Linked DNA regions of Homo sapiens: region 1 is linked to region 2. The links come from fine-mapping of genetic effects on gene expression. A gene starts in region 2. The other region holds a variant in brackets. All regions are shown on one strand. Distances are from middle to middle. Region 1 overlaps LACTB2 (lactamase beta 2). Region 2 holds the start of TRAM1 (translocation associated membrane protein 1).

What was found. PIP is the estimated chance that this variant, and not a neighbour inherited with it, causes the effect. A credible set is the group of variants that fine-mapping cannot tell apart.
Region 1: its variant is the best candidate, but not a certain one, in a credible set for the expression of TRAM1 in whole blood (INTERVAL, PIP 0.52).

Annotation. Positions count from the first base shown.
Region 1 is chr8:70,643,585-70,646,499 of GRCh38, forward strand. It overlaps LACTB2 (lactamase beta 2), which reads right to left. Exons shown (of 7, transcript NM_016027.3): 4 at 481-659. The region is part of intron 1 of LACTB2-AS1 (LACTB2 antisense RNA 1); the gene reads left to right. Among named protein-coding and RNA genes, the nearest start is that of LACTB2, 24 kb to the right of the region's middle. The variant A/T (reference allele first, on the strand shown) is at 1,468.
Region 2 is chr8:70,607,292-70,610,206 of GRCh38, forward strand. TRAM1 (translocation associated membrane protein 1) reads right to left here and starts at 1,125. Exons shown (of 11, transcript NM_014294.6): 1 at 786-1,125. The coding sequence starts at 908. It overlaps LACTB2-AS1 (LACTB2 antisense RNA 1), which reads left to right and starts at 1,286. Exons shown (of 4, transcript NR_038881.1): 1 at 1,286-1,542. RefSeq lists silencers at 172-621, 642-821, 872-931, 992-1,041, 1,122-1,291.

The DNA.
Region 1 (2,915 bases), 36 kb after region 2:
GCTGACTGCAACTTCCACCTCCCAGGTTCAAGCGATTCTCCTGTCTCAGCCTCCCAAGTAGCTGGGATTACAAGTGTGCGCCACCACACTCAGCTAATTTTTTTATTTTTAGTAGAGATGGGGTTTCACCATGTTGGCCAGGCTGGTCTTGAACTCCTGACCTCATGATCTGCCCACCTTGGCATCCCAAAGTGCTGGGATTACAGGTGTGAGCCACTGAGCCTGGCCTTATATGTTATCTCTTCAAGGCCAAATACATACAGAGACAAGCCAAAATGAACCTTCCTCATCATTTGACACAAATGGTTTGCTAGGTTTGAAAAACTACCCACTTTGGCATGCCTGTATACCCAGCGCTTTGGGAGGTTGAGGTGGGAGGACTGCTTGAGGTCAGGAGTTTGAGAACAGCCTGGAAAACATAGCAAGACCTTGTCTCTATTTAAAAACATAAAAATATAAAAAAATTTAAAAATTACCCACCTGGATATATAATATCAGCTTTGATTTTCAATAACTCTTTTAAAGAGTTCATATAATCATAGAGGTCTTCAAATACCGTTGTTCCTTCCCCTAGGATGCAATCTCCAGAAAAGATAGCATTTTCCTCTTCTAAGAGTAGAGCCATGTGATCATCAGTGTGGCCAGGGGTATATAGAACTCTGGTTGAAAGAAGAAATAAGGAATAATAACAATTATGAACTCGAGCTTAGAAGAAATTTTGAGAAGTAAATTATTCTGTATCCTTATCTTTAGACACAAATAAACAGATGAGTTAAAAAGCTGCTTTTTCTTTTCTTGAACCCACTGAAAATTATCATTAGAAAATTCTCTCCTTTAACTAAACCAAGATTCTCACTCTGAAGTAAAATTTAATACTTTTCCCACCCTTTTTCTTTTCTTTTTTTGAGACAGGGTCTCACTCTGTTGCCCAGGCTGCAGTGCAGAGGCAGGATCACAGGTCACTGCAGGCTCAATCTTCTGGGCCCAAGTGACCCTCCCACCTCAGCCTCCTGAGTAGCTGGAACCACAGGTGTGGGCCACCAAGCCTGGCTAATTTATTTTTATTTTTATTTTTTGTAGAGACAGGATCTCACAATATTGACCAGGCTGGTCTTGAACTCTTAGACTCAAGCAATCCTACCACCTCGGCCTCCCAAAGTGCTGGGATTACAGGCATTAGCCACCTCATCTGGCCTCCTACCATTTTTCTTACTTTATAAATAATAAGCACTGATTATAACAAATTTGGAAAATAGAAAAGTAAAGTGTTTAAAAGAAATGAACATCAACAATCATTTCTATTCCTCAGAGGGAGAGCTTTTATTATTACAGAATATATACTTTTTGATTTTCTATGCATATTTATATATTTTAAAAACAAAACTGATATTGTTTTAATACCTGATTTTTGAAATCTTAACTTACTATATTGTATTTTCCTACATCATTATATGTTTACATCATTTT[A/T]TATATATATATACACACACACACACATATACACATATATACATATATGTTTATTTATTTTTGAGATATATCAAGGTCTTGTTATGTTTTCCAAGCTGTTCTCACCCAGGCTGAAGCGTGGTGGCATGTTCCTGGCTCACTGCAGCCTCAACCTCCTGGGCTCAAGCAATTCTCCAACTTCAGCCTCCCGACTAGTTGGGAGCACAGGTATGTGCCACCACGCTTGGCTAATTTATTTTTATTTTTTTGTAAAGACAAGGTCTCTTTATGTTGCCTAGGCTGGCATCAGTATATACTTTTCAAAGACAAGTATTTAAGTGCTTAGCATAGCAGATGGCACAAAATTGCATGCTTAATAAATGGTAAATTTATTTTAGTAGTTATTATCTAAAAGCTTAAAAGAAACTTTCTTAACATGCAGAAGGTGGTCAGAAAAAGACTCTTTTTTTTTTTTAAATTATACTTTAAGTTTTAGGGTACATGTGCACAACGTGCAGGTTAGTTACGTATGTATACATGCGCCATGTTGGTGTGCTGCACCCAGTAACTCGTCATTTAACATTAGGTATATCTCCAAATGCTATCCCTCCCCCTCCCCCCACCCCACAATAGGCCCCGGTGTGTGATGTTCCCCTTCCTGTGTCCATGTGTTCTCACTGTTCAATTCCCACCTATGAGTGAGAACATGTGGTGTTTGGTGTTTTGTCCTTGCGATAGTTTGCTGAGAATGATGGTTTCCAGCTTCATCCATGTCCCTACAAAGGACATGAACTCATCATTTTTTATGGCTGCATAGTATTCCATGGTGTATATGTGCCACATTTTCTTAATCCAGTCTATCATTGTTGGACGTTTGGGTTGGTTCCACGTCTTTGCTATTGTGAATAGTGCCGTGATAAACATACATGTGCATGTGTCTTTATAGCAGCATGATTTATAATCCTTTGAGTATATACCCAGTAATGGGACTGCTGGGTCAAATGGTATTTCTAGTTCTAGATCCCTGAGGAATCGCCACACTGACTTCCACAATGGTTGAACTAGTTTACAGTCCCAGCAACAGTGTAAAAGTGTTCCTATTTCTCCACATCCTCTCCAGCACCTGTTGTTTCCTGACTTTTTAATGATCGCCATTCTAACTGGTGTGAGATGGTATCTCATTGTGGTTAAGAGCTTCTGCACAGCAAAAGAAACTACCATCAGAGTGAACAGGCAACCTACAGAATGGGAGAAAATTTTTGCAATCTACTCATCTGACAAAGGGCTAATATCCAGAATCTACAATGAACTCCAACAAATTTACAAGAAAAAAACAACCCCATCAAAAGTGGGCAAAGGATATGAACAGACACTCTCAAAAGAAGACATTTATGCAGCCAAAAGACACAAGAAAAAATGCTCATCATCACTGGCCATCAGAGAAACGCAAATCAGAAAAAGACTCTTTA
Region 2 (2,915 bases):
TCCTACTTCAAGAAACAAAATTACTCGATTCCTTGGCACCGCTGTTCAGAACCTCGATTTATCCATCAGACCTTGTTTCTTTAAAGCGTCAGGGCAAAAAGTTCGTTAACTGGTAATAATATCAGTTTAAAAGACAAAAATGAAAACAATCTGGCGCGCCTCCACTGCGCCGGTGCCCGGCGGCCACCGCCCTTCAAGTCGAAAGCAGATGCCTGACTCCGGTTTCTCGCTCACCCCAATCTCGGAGCTACCGGGGGCTCCCCTGTCACTCGGGGCCTGTGGTCTCCAGGCCGGCACTCCTCAGACCCGGGGGCCGGGCCTCGGCCTTCCCCGGCCCTCGCGGGGCTGACGCTCACCGCGGCCGAGGCTGGCAGTCCCCCCAAGTCCGCCCACCCGCCCCGAGCCAGCTCGGCAGCGCAGGGGCCGCCCCCGCCCGCAGGCCCCTCGCCGGCTGCCACGTAACCCTTCGCGGGAACCAGGAACTGCGCCGCGCAGCCTGCGGGAGGGGGCGGCGGCGGGTCAGGAAGGGGGCGACGCGGCGGTCCCCACCCCCTGCGGGCCGCGATGAGGCCCACCGGGACTTTGCATCTCCGGGCCGGCCGCCGGGGAGCTGCCGCCGACGTGGGGCAGGGCAGGGAAGGCCTGCACCTCAGGGACTGGGGGTCTGCACCCACCCCGGGCCCGAGCCCCCCGCGTCCTGGGCGGAGAAGCCGGGGCTGGCATCTGGAGCCCGGGCCCGGGCTGGAGGTGGCGGGGCAGGCGGTTGGGACTCGGGGCGGGCTCACCTCAAACATGAGCCCCAGCAGGAAGACCATCGCCACACAGGAGACGATGTCCGCGTGATTCTGCAGGACGAATTCGTGGCTCAGCACTGGGGGGCTCTTGGTGCTTTTCTTGCGAATCGCCATGGTGGGGCCGCCGCCCGCGCCTGCAGGTGCTCCGCCCCGGTTCTGCTCTTCCCAGCTGCTCACCGACTCGCCGCCGCCTCCCGCTGGCTGCTCCTCACGGCCCCGCTGCAGCCGCTCGCTGGGGCTTCACTTCCCATCCCACAGCCAGTACGCAGCCGCCGGGCCGCCCGGGGGAAAAAAAAAAACACAACAGCTAGCCCGCAGCGGGGGCGAGCATGCGCACCAGGGAGACGACGCTCCCTGGTGCCGCGGCCGCCTCCGCGAGCCCACAGCGCCACCTGGGGACCGGAGGCCGCTGGCCCGCGGCCGGGCGAGCGTGCAGGAATGTGAGCGGCGCTTCCCTGCTTCGCGCCGGGCCCGGGTTTGGGAGTCGTTTGAGGCGCGAGCTTCCTGCGCCTGCTCAGCAGCCTGAGGCCGCGGCCGGGTGCCCTCCTGCCCTCCTGGCCATCCAGGGATTGGGTGTCAGTGGCCTGTTGCACATTGTCACTTCTACAAGTGACTAACACCGTCAGGATAATCTAAAACTACGAATACTACCTGACTCCACAAGGGTACGGTGTATTCTCCAGTTTTAGCATCTGCCTTAAAAATTACCTCAGAGTTAAGCACTGCTGGGGACTTATTTCTACTCTTGGTAAGTTTGGACTAACTTAAAAAAAAAAAAAGAGCTGACCCTATTCTGGTCTGCCTCTCCGTCCCCACCCCCATCCCCGTCCCCATCCCCACCCCTATCCCCCACTGGCCTCAGACTGAAGACGAAGGGATCAGTTTGGGTTTACTGGCTTCACATATATTCAAATTAACAACATGTTTTAGTAATCTAAGGGAAATAGTAAAAGAGTTAAAAAGGATCGTGGATTAAGACACGTCCTCCTCTTATCGTTTTGCCCAAACCTGGAGTCCTTTGTATTCTTTTTCCTGAAGAATTGCTCTCCTGTTTACCCATAAGCCAAATGTAGAAACCAAAGTCATGCTAGATTGAGCCCTTTCAGCGCCCTTCCACATCCAGTCATCACCAATTCGAGGCAGACCTATCACCCCGCTTCCCCACTACCGCAGTCCGAGGGTACTTGCCTCTTGCCTACAATATTACAACTCTGGTGTAACCACTTAGTGGTTTAAGAATGTGGGTTGTTAAATCAGAATTCTGCCACTTATTACTTGTACGATCAAGGACAAGTTACTTAATCTCTATGGGACCCGATTTCCTCATTTTTAAAAATGTATTCATTTATGTACTTACTGAGGGTTGACTGTGTCCTGGGCACTGGGGATACAGAACTGAAATACAAATTAAATTATTCCTAGGGACTTATCATTCTAGTGTGGGAGAGAATCTTTAAACAAGATTTCAAAAGCGAAACAGATGTTAAATTGAGTTGAGCAACCAGGAGAAAAATAAAGCAAGGGGAATAGGAAAGTGCGAGGCACTTATACTTGCCTGAAGACCTGCAGGAGGTGAGGGAGCAAGCCCTGTGGATATCATCTATAAAGTGGGGATAACTATTGCTCATTTTAGTGATTAAATGAGATGATTGAAGGAAACTGCTTAGCGGGGAGTAAGGGCTTTATAAATTTAGTCAGGGATTATTCTTTTCCTCCTTCTGGGCAATCACTAGTTTCATTTCCCTTCAGATCACCTTTCAACGTTTATACTAGAATGATGCTTCTACTGGCAGAAAGTTTTTCAGCGGGTTCCCTTTCCCTTCATGGAAAGCTAGCATGATGAAATAGCCCTTTCTGATTTGGTCCTTGCCTACCCCAACAGACTGGAGCCCTGCATCTACAGGCCATAATCTCTGTACCAGCATTATTGACTACACACACTATACAGTTGCCTCTCCATATCTGTGGGTGCCGCATACACTGTGGATTCAACCAACCTGGAGTAAAAGATATTCAAGAAAAAAACTGCATTTGTACTGAACATCTACAGACTACCCCCCCATGATTATTCCCTAAATAATATAGTACAGCCAACTATTTATTTAGCAGTTATGTTGTGTT